Linked DNA regions of Homo sapiens. Changing the gene in region 3 together with the main gene of any one other region gives a genetic interaction. Each region holds a gene or a part of one and is shown on either strand. Other genes may lie near its edges.

Evidence for each region. A genetic interaction does not mean that the proteins touch.
Region 1: changes in NOLC1 (region 3) and GNL3L together harm fitness more than expected from each alone (negative genetic interaction), as found in Homo sapiens cells (one large-scale study listed by BioGRID).
Region 2: changes in NOLC1 (region 3) and TCOF1 together harm fitness more than expected from each alone (negative genetic interaction), as found in Homo sapiens cells (one large-scale study listed by BioGRID).
Region 4: changes in NOLC1 (region 3) and ZNHIT6 together harm fitness more than expected from each alone (negative genetic interaction), as found in Homo sapiens cells (one large-scale study listed by BioGRID).

The regions. Positions count from the first base shown.
Region 1 is NC_000023.11:54,540,219-54,543,718, reverse strand, and holds part of GNL3L (guanine nucleotide-binding protein-like 3-like protein), read right to left. Parts: coding exon 3,477-3,500; intron 2,447-3,476; coding exon 2,330-2,446; intron 765-2,329; coding exon 681-764; intron 513-680; coding exon 377-512; intron 1-376.
Region 2 is NC_000005.10:150,374,697-150,378,196, reverse strand, and holds part of TCOF1 (treacle protein), read right to left. Parts: coding exon 3,386-3,500; intron 3,244-3,385; coding exon 3,034-3,243; intron 2,859-3,033; coding exon 2,643-2,858; intron 2,477-2,642; coding exon 2,288-2,476; intron 2,116-2,287; coding exon 1,867-2,115; intron 1,775-1,866; coding exon 1,577-1,774; intron 1-1,576.
Region 3 is NC_000010.11:102,158,889-102,162,388, reverse strand, and holds part of NOLC1 (nucleolar and coiled-body phosphoprotein 1), read right to left. Parts: intron 3,197-3,500; coding exon 3,081-3,196; coding exon of another isoform or gene 3,051-3,080; intron 2,957-3,050; coding exon 2,821-2,956; intron 2,494-2,820; coding exon 2,365-2,493; intron 2,157-2,364; coding exon 2,046-2,156; intron 1,938-2,045; coding exon 1,296-1,937; intron 834-1,295; coding exon 727-833; intron 557-726; coding exon 464-556; intron 279-463; coding exon 120-278; 3' UTR 1-119. UniProt on the Homo sapiens protein: Nucleolar protein that acts as a regulator of RNA polymerase I by connecting RNA polymerase I with enzymes responsible for ribosomal processing and modification.
Region 4 is NC_000001.11:85,705,634-85,709,679, forward strand, and holds the start of ZNHIT6 (box C/D snoRNA protein 1), read right to left. Parts: upstream 2,801-4,046; 5' UTR 2,652-2,800; coding exon 1,996-2,651; intron 875-1,995; coding exon 809-874; intron 723-808; coding exon 616-722; intron 531-615; coding exon 445-530; intron 1-444. UniProt on the Homo sapiens protein: Required for box C/D snoRNAs accumulation involved in snoRNA processing, snoRNA transport to the nucleolus and ribosome biogenesis.

The sequences.
Region 1 (3,500 bases), on a different chromosome or scaffold from region 3:
TGACTTATCCAGTGTCTCAGAGAAAAGAATCAGGACAGGTGGGAGGCTGAACCCTAGACATGAGTGACTCCTGAGCCCATGTGCTCCTCTGCCCCAGTCTTTGAGTTGAGGGAGGAGGAACTCTCCAGGGTTGTCCAAAAACAGAGAAGGCTCAAAATGGCAAGAACAGGGGACTGAAAGGCAGACAGGCTTGGATTCCACACCTAACTTGTACCATACTCTGTGATACAGGCTTTGAAAATCGGAACAAAAATTTCTACTTTGCATGACTATTATGAGTATCACTGAGTTGCTGGGTTCAGTGTCTGGTCCAAGCTAGACGTTAAAGATGGCCTGCCCACCTTCCCTGTCACACCCAATCCTGCCTAACACCCACCAATCTTGTTCAAGACCAGGACCAGCTTCTTGTTGCCTTGTGCTCGCAGGACAGCCTCCTCCATTTGGAAGCAGCGGCAGCCTAATGGGTCTCTGGCATCCAGGACTTCCAGAATCACATCAGAGTATTCCACCACCTGCAGGGCAGAGGACCAGGAGATGAGGGCAGGAAAAGGATAGGGTAGCAGTGATGCAGGCCTGTGAAACAAAAATCTCCATCTCAGTCAGGAAAAAACAGAAATGGAGAGGAAAAGGGGCTGGACTGGAACCCTCCCGCAAAAGCCTGAAGAAATGGAACCCTGTACCTTACGGAACTCCTTGTAATAAGCCTTCCTCGTGGCCTCGTCATCCAGCTGAGGAAACATATTTAATTCCTGCAAAACTTCCTCCTAAAGGAGAAAAAAAAAGAGAATGGTCCAGGGGAGGAGGGGGAGAGAGCGAGAAAGAGAAGCAGGGCTTTTTAAACTATAGGAGGCTTAAAAAATCATGTGAGTCCTGGCCATCAGAGAAATGCAAATCAAAACCACAATGAAATACCATCTCAAACCAGTTAGAATGGCGATCATTAAAAAGTCAGGAAACAACAGGTGCTGGAGAGGATGTGAAGAAATAGGAACACTTTTACACTGTTGGTGGGACTGGAAACTAGTTCAACCATTGTGGAAGACAGTGTGGCGATTCCTCAAGGATCTAGAACTAGAAATATCATTTGACCCAGCCACCCCATTACTGGGTATATACCCAAAGGATTATAAATCATGTTACTATAAAGACACATGCACACGTATGTTTATTGCGGCACTATTCACAATAGCAAAGACTTGGAACCAACCCAAATGTCCAACAATGATAGACTGGATTAAGAAAATGTGGCACATATACACAATGGAATACTATGCAGCCATAAAAAATGATGAGTTCATGTCCTTTGTAGGGACATGGATGAAGCTGGAAACCATCATTCTCAGCAAACTATTTCAAGGACAAAAAAACCAAACACCCCATGTTCTCACTCATAGGTGGGAATTGAACAATGAGAACACTTGGACACAGGAAGGGGAACATCACACACCGGGGACTGTTGTAGGGTGGGGGGAGGGCGGAGGGATAGCATTAGGAGATATACCTAATGTAAATGACAAGTTAATGGGTGCAGCACACCAACATGGCACATGGATACATATGTAACAAACCTGCACGTTGTGCACGTGTACCCTAGAACTTAAAGTAAAATAATAATTTAAAAAATAAATCATGTGAGTCTCAGGCCACCAAAAAGTAGCTTTGACCAACCAATAAAGCTGGGAACTGGAAGAAAAATGGACAGAACCCCATGGTTCATGTGTGCGCCTATGTGTATACGTGTGCTCGAGCACCAGGTGGAGACCTGAGTGTGCACATGGGTGTGAAAGGGAGGGATGGAGGAGGGAGGTGTGAAAAAAACAATCTATGAGGGACACAGGATGGGGGAGGCATACACACTGCATATCAGAAAAGGGAGTATGAGCTGGCAAGCGTGTATTCTGTGTGTGAAACAAGAACATCTGCCAAAAAGGCAGCAAGAAGCCCTAGAAGGAAGACAACATCCCCTCACATATGCTCCTCTCTGTCTCTCAATCCTCTCCTCATACTTTCGCTCCCTCTCCCCCAACCCCATCCCCTGGTCACATGTAACTCTCCCAGCCCCCAACTCCGCCACCAGCCCCAGTCTTCAGGCTCAACCTTGGGAGAGAGGAGCTCTCCAGAGGTGTCCAGTCACGGGTAAGGCTCAAAATGGCCCTTTATCTCCCTTTATCCCTCCCTCCCTCCCTTCGTCCGTCCCCATGGTTTTCTATCCTCTCTACACTGATTCCCTTGTTCCCCTCCAACAACTTCACACCTTCTTCCCTTTCACAGAAAAACGGCAAAAGATGCTTTGAGCAAACCTACCCAGGGGCAAGGGCTGCACTCTTACCTTATGCTCAAACTCCTCCTGGCGTCTTAGGACATCCTGACAGTAGCTCTCAATGGTCCTGCGTTTTTGTCTTTCTTGCTCCCGGGCGGCTTGCTGCTTCTCCCTCATCTCCTCAACCTAACAAGTGAACACACACTGGTACTGGAGCTGACTGGGTCTGCAGCCTAAGGGAGGGATGGGTGACAGACAGAGGAAATGGTGCGACATGGCAGAGGTGGCAGGAGCAGGGTCCAGGGAGAGGGAAGATATGACATCAGGAGATGAGGGTTTGAGAAGAAGAAAAAGAGAGATGAAGGGAAGGAAAGAGTTGCAGAGAAAAGAGGGTATAAAAAGCAGAGAGAGAATGTATCCTAGGCAGGCGGAACCACTTAAGACCAGAGATGGAAAGAAGCCAAGGTCCTGGGATGCTTCATCATTTAAAGATAAGGAAGAAGGCTGGGCAGGGTGGCTCACGCCTGTAATCTCAACACTTTGGGAGGCCAAGGCAGGTGGATCACCTGAGGTCAGGAGTTCAAGACCAGCCTGACCAACATGGTGAAACTCCATCTCTACTAAAAATACAAAATTAGCTGGGCGTGGTGGTGCATGCCTGTAATCCCAGCTACTCAGGAGGCTGAGGCAGGAGAATCGCTTGAACCCGGGAGGTAGAGGTTGCAGTGAATCGAGATCACACCACTGCACTCCAGCCGGGACAACAAGGTGAAATTCCATCTCAAAAAAAAAGATAAGAAAGGGGAAAAAGTGGCAAAAGAGACTGTCAGTGGCTAGTCAAAGAAGAAAGACATCCAGGAGAGTGAGATGACAAGAAAGTCCACATGCTTCAAAGAAAGCATAGCCTCAAATGCTGAGCATTCCAATAAGATGAGGGAAGAATACTATTCATGAATGTGATGTCAGGGAAGGCGCTGATGAGGCCAGCAGGGGCAGTGTCAGCAGAGCAGTGGAAGCATAAGCCAGACAGCAATGGACTGGGTGGTGAACAAACGCAGACATAAATCCAGTATCATGGTAACCTCCCTCTCTCCCGGCTTCCACAAATAGCCTCAACAACCCTAACAACTCTTGCCTTTGCCCTTCCATTCAACACTTCTGCGGACCTGGCATTCAAGGCAGGCCCTCTCTCTCCCCACCAAGGCAAAAAGCTTACCCACTTCTTCTTTAATTCAGCCTC
Region 2 (3,500 bases), on a different chromosome or scaffold from region 3:
GGCATCTGGTCAGTGTCAGAAAACAACCCCATCCCCCAGCATTCCTCAAACACATGAGGTCAAATGAGGTGAAGAATCAGGACTTCAAGAAGATTCCCTACAGTGTGGACCAAGTATGACTCAGGCCGAGGTGCTCATCAGTAGAGCACGTAAATCCTCCAGAGGGGAGCCATGTTTTCCACAAGAAACAAGACACAAGACTGACTTGACCTAACAAGTCTCAATACACAAAAAAGGATTTAAATCATACAAAATATGTTCTCCAACCACAATGTGACTAAATTAGAAATCAACAAAAAGAAACCTGGGTAATCCCAGATATTTGGAAATTAAACGGCTTACTTCAAAATAGCCCATGGTTCAAAAAATAAAAATAAAACACCCACCTCATGGTACAGGTGGGAGGCTCAGAAGGGAAGACAAATATTTAAGTGAGCTGCATAATGAAACTCTGTAAGGCATTGGGTCTGGAATGTGCCTGCAGCTTGGGAAAGAGTAGAGGCGGCTCTGGAAGGGGCCCCTGCAGAGCTTAAAAACCTCAATGGAGGAATTCTAGAGCCCTGAGGTCCCACAAGTCAACGAGAGGAGGACAAAAAAAAATCAGTAGAAATGTGTGCTCTGGTACAGAGAAAAAAGAAATGACTAATTTCTGAGTGGTTACAGAAAAAAACAGAGCGACAATTAAAAATAATAAACAGTGGGTGGGTGAGTGCAGGGAGTGAGCCATCTTCTCTCAGCTCTTCCAGGCTTGGAGACCTCACTCCTGATCTGTTCCACATTAGCCTGGCCCATCGTCAGGGTGACAGAGACAACTTGCTGTGTGCAGCTCCCTTGCTGGGTGTAGCAGGTGAGATCTCACCTAAATTCTCACCCAAACCTGTGAGGGCTGATTTCCTGTTTATAGGAGAGTAAGGGCTCTGAGGGCTTACAGCACTTGCCAGGCTGTGGAGCTGAAACTTGAACCCAGGCGGTCTGGCTCTAAACAACTGCCAGCCATCCCACCACAATGTGCCGCCTGTGGCAAGGCACCCAAGCCAGGCACTCTCTCATTCCCTGGCCTCGCACAGACTGCTTCCTCTGCCTGGAACACTCTCCCTGCCCATTTCACCTGGCCAACTCTTTCAGCCCATGGCTCAGATGCTGCCACCTCCTGTAAAAGGCCTAGATGCTCTCACCTGTCATGCTGCGCAGCCCAGGCTCACACCCTCTATCTCAACCCCATCGCTCCACACTGCAGGAGCATGTCCATGCTCCACAGAGACAGGACTTCCCTGAGGAACAGCGCCTCAGCAACCCCAGACAAGGGCAGCACCTGGCAGGGTGGGAACTCCAGAGCTTGTGAAAACCACAGGGAATCAATCAGCAGGAGGACCTCAAAAGGCAAACAAGACAGAGACCCTGGAGCTCTGATGGGCAGAGGAGACATGGAGTGAAAGATAGGGAAGGAAGCTGTGTTGAGGCTACCTCTGAGGCTTCTGCACACCTGCAGGCAACACTAGCCCCCAGTCAAGCCCATCCTCAGCCCTGGCTCAGGAACAGGTGTGGGTGGGATGGGCCTGCTCCTTCTAGGCCTCACCTGTGCTGGAGATGCAGCTGCTTCCTCACTGTCTGATTCCTCCTCACTGCTCTCAGAGTCTTCCTGCTTTTCAGCTTTCACCTGGGTGACTGTAGGCCCCGTCTTCCCAGGGAGTACTGGAGCAGTCCCTTGCCCCAAGGACCCCTTGACAGGCACTGAGGCTGCTTTCACCTGGAGGCCTTTCCCCACAGACTTTGCCTGGGATGACAAGGGGAAGAGAGGTGTCTCCAGGAGTCCAAAGGACCACGTAGGGGCGGCCCTGAGGCCCGCCCAGAAAACACAGGCCTCACCTGTCCCACGGTTACTGCAAGACCTGTCTTCTCTTCCTCACTATCTGATTCCTCACTGCTTGAAGAATCCTCTGCTGGTCTCTGGGTGCCCCCAGCCACAGCTGGGGATGAGCCTGCTGGAGAAGTCGCAGTTCCTGCTTTCCGGGGGGCTTGGGTGCCCACTCGCACAGGGGCGACCTTGGCAGATGCAGTGGTATTGGTTTTCTTTGGGCAGGCCTTGGTCTGAGGAATTTTCAGAGCTGGTTTTGCCTGAGGGGACACCAAAGAAAGGCTGGAGAAGGTTCCTGAACTCAGAGTCCCCCATCTGTTCTGCCCCACCAGCCAAAACCCATGCTCTGCCTGAGGGAGCACAGCTCCCCGGGGGTGCTGACTGTGGTGTGGCAGATCAGGCCATGTAGCAGCCTCCTTCCCCAGGCCTCACCTGAGCTGCAGTCATGGCTGCTGGTGCCTCCTCACTGTCCGCACTGTCCGATGACTCCTCGCTGCTCTCCGAGTTGTCCATGGGCTTTTCAGCCTTGACCTGGACGGCTACAGGCCCTGCCTTCTGAGGGGGCCCCTTGGCAGGACTGGAGGTGGGTTTGGCCTGGAGGATGTTCCCCAAGGACTTTTCCTGGAGTGAGATACACAGGATCGGGAGAGGGAGCCCAGGGTAGGTGTGTGCAGACATTAAGAAACTAAGATTGTAGACAGAGTCCCAGTGTGAGGTTGGGAGGCCACAGGCAGCTCCACTCTGAGTGGGGGGGAAAAAGAAAGAGCCTTACAGGAAGGGGCCTCACCTGAGCCGGGGCCACAGCTGTGGGCACCTCTCCATCACTGCTGTCTGATGACTCCTCACTACTGCTCTCTGAGTCCTCCTCCCACTTCCCCACCTGGGCTGAGGGGGTTGCAGGCCCCACCTTCCCGGGTGGCACTGGGCCGGCGCCTTTCCCCAAGGGCCCCATGCCCATGGTAGAGGCAGGTTTCACCTGGGGGCTTTTCCCCAAGGGCTTCACCTGGGAGACACAAAGGACAAGATTAGGGAGGGAGTCCAGAAGGAGAATGTGAGTGAGGGGAGGAGAGCAAACGAAGCCAGCCGCACAGGGCTCTAGGTTCAGAGAGGAAAAGTCAAAACCACAGGAGGTCTTTTGAGGCAGGGCACAGGCCATGCAGGGCGGCTTCCAGCCTCACCTGAGCTGCATTCATGGCTGCCAGTGCCTCTCTGTCACTGTCTGACTCCTCGCTGCTGCTTCTTGAGTCCTCCTCCTGCTTCCCCACCTGGACCTGGGCGGCTGCAGGCCCTGTTTTCCTAGGAGGTGCTGGGGCAGCCCCTTTCCTGGGGGACTCCTTGGCAGGGGCCGAGGCGGCTCTGACCTGGGGGGCCTTCCCTGAAGGCTTCGCCTGGAGTGAGAAACAGGATGAGGGGAGAGCCCAGAGGGTGGACGTGTGGAGACAGGAGCTGGATGTGGCAAAGGTGGCCACACCCATGCAGGTGCTGGGGTTTAGGCATGGGGCTACTCTCCACCCCTCCCCTCTGCCTCACCTGAGCAGGCGCCTCCTCCTCACTGTCCGATTCCTCGCTGCTGCTCTGCGAGTCCTCCTCCCGCTTCCCCGCCTGGGCCTTGGCAACTGCAGGCCCTGTCTTCCCAGGGGGCGCT
Region 3 (3,500 bases):
TACTCTAAACTTCTGTCCTCATCAAGACCCTCACCTAGAGACCTGAGGGTTCCCAGGTCCACTGGAGAAAGTAAGTAGTCTCCGATCATCACCCTTGCTTCACCGAAGATGGCCTCAGGTCACTCGCTGTCAAACTTAATAGAATTGACCTGGACAGAGATTGAGCCTCCCCGGTAGCTGCCCCGCTTCTTCTTGGTTTTCTCATGCCGAAAGGACTTGCCTTTGGTGAACTTCAAAACCTGATTGGCTCGCTCTCCCCAGTCTCCGGCTGCACCTCGCTGGTAAGTAGAGAGGGAGATTAACACAGAGGAGGACCATGCTGGAGCCCTGTCACTTTATTCTTTCTACTCCCTGCTCAAGGAAACCTGAACCCAGAGAAGATTCCCACCAACCTGAACCAAGAATTGTCCTCTCTGACACTACCCATCCTCCCTCCCAAGAATGGCACAGATCTCTCTCTCACCTTGGCATCAAAGGAGTTGTCCGCAACTCGTGAATCCACCTCAATTTCCTCCTCCCTGACCCTTCGGAATGGGGATGATGCCCTTTTTTCTCCCTACAGAAGAATGAAGTAGGAAATTAAAGACAGAGTGGTCATGTAACAGTTCTCCTGAGTGATACACATGGGCACATGTACCAGGTCACGCCAGGCAGAGCTGTCAAGATGATCCTAGATTTTTCTACTTTTAAAGAGCTGGCTCCTGAGAAGAAAGTGAGACAACTTACTTTCTTCCTTTTTGGAAATGTGTTAGGGGTCTGAAGCTTTATCTTCTTGGCCTGAGGAGTCTCTGCCTCCTTGGCAGCCTCATTCTGCTTCCGCTTCTTTAATGAACCTACAAAACAAAAAGCCAGACTCAGGCCGAGTACAGTGGCTCACAACTGTAACCCCAGCATTTTGGGAGTCCAAGGTAGGAGGATCGCTTGAGCCCAGGAAATTCAGATCAGCCTGGGCAATATAGTGAGATTCTGTCTCTATAAAAAGTTAAAAAAATGAGCCAGACATGGTGGTGCATGCTTGTAGTCCCGGCTACTCAGGAGGCTGGGGTGGAAAGATCACCTGAGTCCATGAGGTTAAGGCTGCACAAGCCGTGATCATGCCATTGCACCCTGGTCTGGGTGACACAGTGAGACTCTAATAAAAAAAAAAAAAGGTAACCAGTTTCCTGTTCTTCCTCCCAGTTTCCACAACTGGAAGCCCAGTGGTGGGCCTCCTCTCACTACCCTACTCTCAAAGAGTATATCCCATCCTGATTTGGGGGGACAAAACCCAGAGGGCATGTTCATTGGGTACAGACCTGATTTGGAAACTACCACTGCCGCCTTTTTCTTTTCTTCTTCCTCCTCCTCACTGTTCTTAGCTGCTTTTCCATTCTGGGCAGTCAGTGCAGAGGTGCCATTGGCCTTGGGGGCTTGTGGTCTTGGAGAGCCCTTGCCCTTGAGCTTCTCTTCCTCTTCCTCACTGGAGTCATCAGAAGAAGAACTGTTGCTGCTCTCAGCCTTTCCTTTCTTTGCAGAGGCTGGCTTGGAAGGGGCTGCACCTCCTGCTACCTTCTGTGGCTTCTTCTTAACTGCAGACTTAGATGTCTTCTCTTCCTCCTCCTCACTGCTGGAGCTGTCTGAATCAGAGCTGCTGTCCCTACTACCCTGAGGAGCCTGCTTGGCAGGCAGAGATAGAGCTGCTTTGGCAGTCGCCTTGGGCTTAGTGGTGGCCACCATCTTCTTTGTCTTCTCCTCCTCACTGGAGCTGCTCTCTTCCTCACTGGAGCTGCTGTCAGCCTTTCTCGTCAGAAGCTTCTGGCCACCGCCCACAGGTTGCTTGGGGGCTGCAGCTGGCTTCACTGCAGGTGACTTGGTGGTGACAGCTGGCTTATTTGAAGAATTCTTGGTGGTACCAGCTGGCTTAGAAGGAGCTTCATCATCCTCAGAGCTGTCAGAGTCTAGACACAGAAGGGATGGAATCAACAGCTCCCCAAATTGGATTCAGGGGAGCCCTTAGCAGCTGCCTGAGAGCATCTCACTGAACTGAGGGCCTCCATATGCCTTACCTGAGCTGTCTGAAGAGCTCTCTGCTGCTTTCTTTGCTGGAGGTGGTTTAGTGGTTGCTTTAGAGACTACTGCCTTAGTTGGGGGTTTCTTCTCTTCTTCAGAACTTGAATCTGAGGAGAACCTGTAGCATTATGCTGGGTCCAGAGTCCCAACCCAACCAGGACAGCAATAAAAAGAATGCAAAGACACGCACAGAGCCTTAGCTCTGTCTTGCTTTAAGCAAAAAGCAACCGAAGGATGGAAGGCTTTCTCTCTCCCTTATTCCTCATCCCCTCCTCCAGACCCACGCTGAGGGGAGGCTGCATCCCTCTGACTCACCAGACTCATCACTGCTGTCTTCACTGCTTTCCACAGGCTGCTGCTTCTCCACAGCCTTCTTGGGAGGCTGGGTTCCCAGAGACTTCTTTGGTGGGGGAGCAGAAGGCGGGGGGACTGAACTGTAGGGACCTGTTTAAAAAGGATAGTGTGATGGTTTTAGGATATGTCTACAACTTTTTTTGATACTACTTTCTTGTAGAAATGAAGCTTAATTCCCCTTCACTTGAGTATGGGCCAGAATCAATGACTCAGTTCTAACAGAACATGGTGTCACCTCTGAGTCTAGGTTACACAAGGCACTGGAGATTTCTCCTTGCTTTCCTGGATCACTAGTGCTCGGAGAAGCTAGCTGTCATGTCATGAGGACGCTCATGCACCTCTATGGAGAGGTCCATGTGGTTACTGCAGCTGGGCCCTGACCACAGTCACACAGCTTCGCTCCCCATGTCCAGTCACCTGGTTTATTTTTCATGGGTTTTTTTTGCTCCTCTTCCTCGTCACTGGAGGAATCCTCACTGCTAGAACTCTTCCGGGTAGGGGTGGTAGCTGCTTTCACTGGGGCCTTGGCCACAACTTGCTTTTTAGGTACAGTCTGCATTAGAAAGAAAATTGATTACCACAGGAAAATGCTGACCCAACCAATCCTGCCAGGGAAGGAAGACACACACACATCACACCCTGGTCACCTCTGCCCTGACAGAAGTTATGGTCCAGACCTTCTTGGGGGTGGCTGCTGCCTTCTCCTCCTCTGAGTCATCACTGCTACTGCTGCTGCTGCTGCTACTGCTGCTACTGGCTGCTTTACCATTGGCTATTTTAGGTGCTGCTCGAGCTGGAATACCCAAGAAAAAGAAAGAGTAAGGAGTATTAGGGCAAGTCAGGACCATGAAAAACCTCCTTCCTATGAGCAGAGAACTTAGGAGTCCACCATTTTTTTTTTTTTTTTTTTTTTTTTTTTTGGAGACGGAGTCTGGCTCTGGCTCTGTTGCACAGGCTAGTGTGCAGTGGTTCAGGCAACTCTCCCGCCTCAGCCTCTGGAGTAGCTGGGATTACAGGTGCCCACCACCATGCCCAGCTAATTTTTATATTTTTAGTAGACACAGGGTTTCGCCATGTTGGCCAGGCTGGTCTTGAAC
Region 4 (4,046 bases), on a different chromosome or scaffold from region 3:
TCCTTTTACTTTTGTCCCTACCTGGGATAATCTGCCTCCAAATGTTCACATGACAGCCTCTTTCTCAGCACTCAGATCACTGCTTACACATCATCTCTTTGAGAAGCTTCTCCTGACCACTGTATCGAAAATAGTACCCTGACAATCTCTCCCCAACAAAGACCATTTTCATTCTCTCTTTAATCTCTTGAGCCTTCTTTATTTTCTATATGAACTTAACTCTATCTGAAATTACATTTGTTCCTCTACTTATCTCCTATATCTCCCACTAAATACAACTCCACGAGGGGACGGACTTTGTTTGGGTCACAGCCATATCCTTAAGTAATCAGAATAGCTCTACATCATGGTAGCCACTTAATATATTTGGTAAGTTAAAAAAAAAAAAAGAATCTAATTGATTTGAAGGACTTCTAACTGGAAGAAATTAGGAAAAAATCTTACATATTTATTGCTTATTGGTCTCTTCAAAAAAGCATCTCTAGAAATATGGTCCGCTGTTCTTGCCACATCTTCCAAAAATCGATAATCTAAAAATTTCAAAACAGAAGAATAAACAAGTGACATATACCAATGGCCAGGAAGCCTCAATTTGCTATGCATAAAGTGGCTTACCACTTAGGAGATTCATTTCAGTAAACTGTTGTATTGAAATGTATGCAGTTTTATCTCGAACTCCATTACATGTCAGTTCTGCTTTGTGTTTCTTTACACAGGGCAAACTGAAAAGACAAAGGGGAAGTACTTTTATATTTTAGGGTAAGAAAGGTACAGATACAGGTTAAAAGGTAGGAAGTTACATGTATACCTGCAGGAATATCGCATACAACGTGGACATCTGTACTTTGCTTCTTCTGTACCACAAGTCTCACACCTACAAAAGCCCACATGTAACATTAAATTATCAAATATTAATTGTATTTATTTATAAACTTAGAATTCCCAATCAATTTATAAACTCAGTGACAAGTAACTGATAAAATATTTGATAGCTGTTGAACATCATTTGAAAATTCTTCTCTATGAAACCTTCCCAAAACAACTACATTTCCAATGTTGTTAGTGATATGTAACTCAGGAAAATGTATTAAAATTTTTAAAACCCATCTCGCTTTTGACTTCTTTTTCTACTATAATCAGGGAATGAGATTATTCACTGATATTTTAACTTGTGATTCCTGGAAATGTGGTAATGATTGTATGTGTGTGTATCCAGAAGTCCAATTCATGAGCTATGTTTAGATATTTTTAAAGCACACACCAGACAAAGAATATAAGGCCAAGTGAAATTTAGAGAGTAGTAGTAGCACCCTTTTTCCTGAACTCCACGCCTAATCTAGAATGAGCATCGAAATAATCTAGAAATGCCATGTAACCCATCATCTGTCCTCAACTGCTCTTCTATGCTCCTGGGATACTGACAACCAAACTACAGTTACTTCTATTTAGCCCACTGTGTTCTAGACGGGAATATTCTCAAGAATCTGACTACTCTTATTTCCTTTGTCACATGATCCACACACTAAGGAAATTCAATCAAAAGCAATAAATATTCACAGCACCCATGAAGAAGCTTGATAATTGAGGTCAAGTGTATTTTTGCCTAGTTTTAACTTAATCTACTTTGTCATTGTTAGTTTTATTAGACTTTCTCATCTCTATTCTCTCTCAAAGGAATACCGAGTAAAGAGCATATTAAGTCAAGCCAGATCCAGTTCCAACTGATCTTTTGGTCCCCAGAATTTCCACTTTCCTAACTTGACCATTACCCATTGGACACTACTAATTTCATGTATTTTCACTGAATTTGTTGTGTTGTCATGTACAACACCCTCCACTTCCCAACCCACCCCCGCGAACGCCGTCTGACTCCAGAAACCCAAACTTGTGCTCATTTTTCATTATTCCACCTTCTCCTGATAGTGTGGTTTCCTTCACTCTAGACATGAGGACTCCACAGCTTTATTCCCCTAAATGGAATCCCCCATGCCCTACCTTGACATGGCCAGTTTCCGCTTGCAGCCCACCGGGTGATTTATCGGAGGCTCTTCTTTCACCTTTGTATCATCCACGATTTCTTTCTTCAGGAAATCCTTCTCTTCTTTTACACACTCTCCATGCATCAATTCCTCTTTTATGCATTGACCAACAAACTTCTCCTCCTGTTTTATCTCCAAGTTATCCTTCTCTTCCTTCACTTCTGACCAGTCCATTACCTCTTCCTTTACCTTCTCTTCCTTTACCTCTGGTTCACCCACCTTCGCTTCTTTTACCACTAAACTACTATCCGTCTCCTGCTTCACCTCCAATACGCCTGCGTTCTCATCCTTCACCTCAGGCCTATCCTCCACCTCCTGTTCTACCCACTGGCCAGCCAACCTGCCTTCTGTACCTGGCCAGTCTATAATTTCCTGCTTCACTACCGTTAGGTCCATCGGTATTTCCTCTGGCCTTTGTCCACTTCCTTCCTCTCCATCCCCTATCTCCTTTATCCCTGTCAGCCCTGTCCCCTCCTCTCCGCCGCCGAACTCCTCCGCCCCTGCTAAGTCCCTTACTCCCTCCCTGCCAGGCTCTGGACTTAGCCGCACCCCCTCAGCTACGCTGTGGAGACCTCCCCCAGACTTCCCTTCATTTTCAGCAGCAAACTCCATCAACTCACGATCCTTGGCCTCTGCTGCCACTCTATCCTTCAATGTGGCTGCTGCACACCAATAGGAGGAATTACCGGTCGGAATACCTACGGCGGCCCACGTGTGGAGCCAAGCAGCCACAAACCCGGAATAGCCTGCTTGACGCGACTGCTCGAATCGCCGTAAAGCTACGCTTTTGCGCCTCGCCCCTTCACGACTTGTAGAGCTCTTTACGGCTCTGCGGAGGCCCTGCCGGATTCTCTGGGCGAACAAGCGTAACTGCGTGACTTGCCCGCTGGGGTTCTCGTCTCCTTCCTGGTTTCCACCACCCTCTTCCCTTAGAGAAGCCTCCTGGGCCACTCCCTGGGCCACCCTCCACGCCCTGCTGGGTGTAAAGAGTGTAGGAGACCGGCAGAGGGAGAGAAGCGAAACCCTTACACTCTGGAAGTGGGAAAACCCACCCTAATCTGTGTTAACCATTAAATCCAATCTTGCATGAAAATGGAGGACACACCTGATGTTATTAGGCCTTTCCAAGCTTTAGTTTCTTAAAGCTATAAACTAGGGACCATGGTATTATTAATATAAATCTCCCAGTGTCATTGCAAAGATTATATGAGATCATGCATGGAAATCAACTAGCAGTGACGGACACAAACTCGATATATAACTGGGAATCCTGATGGGCTTCAAACCGCCTGGTTTCCACCACCCCCTTCCCTTAGGGAAGCCTCCTGGGCCACACCCTAGGCCACCCTCCACGCCCTACTGGGTGTAAACAGTGGAGGAGACCGGCAGAGGGAGAGAAGCGAAACCCTTACACTCTGGAAATGGGAAAACCCACCCTTATCTGTGTTAACCATTAAATCCAATCTTGTATGAAAAAGGACACACCTGATGTTACACCTTTGCAAGCTTTAGTTTCTTGAAGCTATAAACTAGGGAGCATGGTATTATTAATATAAATCTCCCAGTGTCATTGCGAAGATAATATGAGATCATGCATAGGAATCAACTGTCAGTGACAGACACAAACTCAGTGTATAACTGGGAATCATGATGGGTTTCAAGTAGGAAAGAGGGCATTAATTTTTCTTTCCATTCTTTCTAAGTAACAGCCTGCGTCAGGCTATTCCCCATTCCCAGCATTCTGCAGGATTCTCTCAGAGAACATCATAAATATATTAGGCGAAAGTGCCTAATGCCCGGTATTGCTGAATAACATTGCATTGTATGAATGTGGCACGTTTTTTCATGCATGTACCAGTTGGTGGGCATTTGGCTTGTTTCCAGTTTGGGCTATTACGAATAATTCTGCTTCCACATTCATATGCAAGTCTTTGTGTGGACATGTTTACATTTCCCGTTAAGTAAATAACTAGGAGTGGAATTGCTGGGCCATATAAATTTATGTTA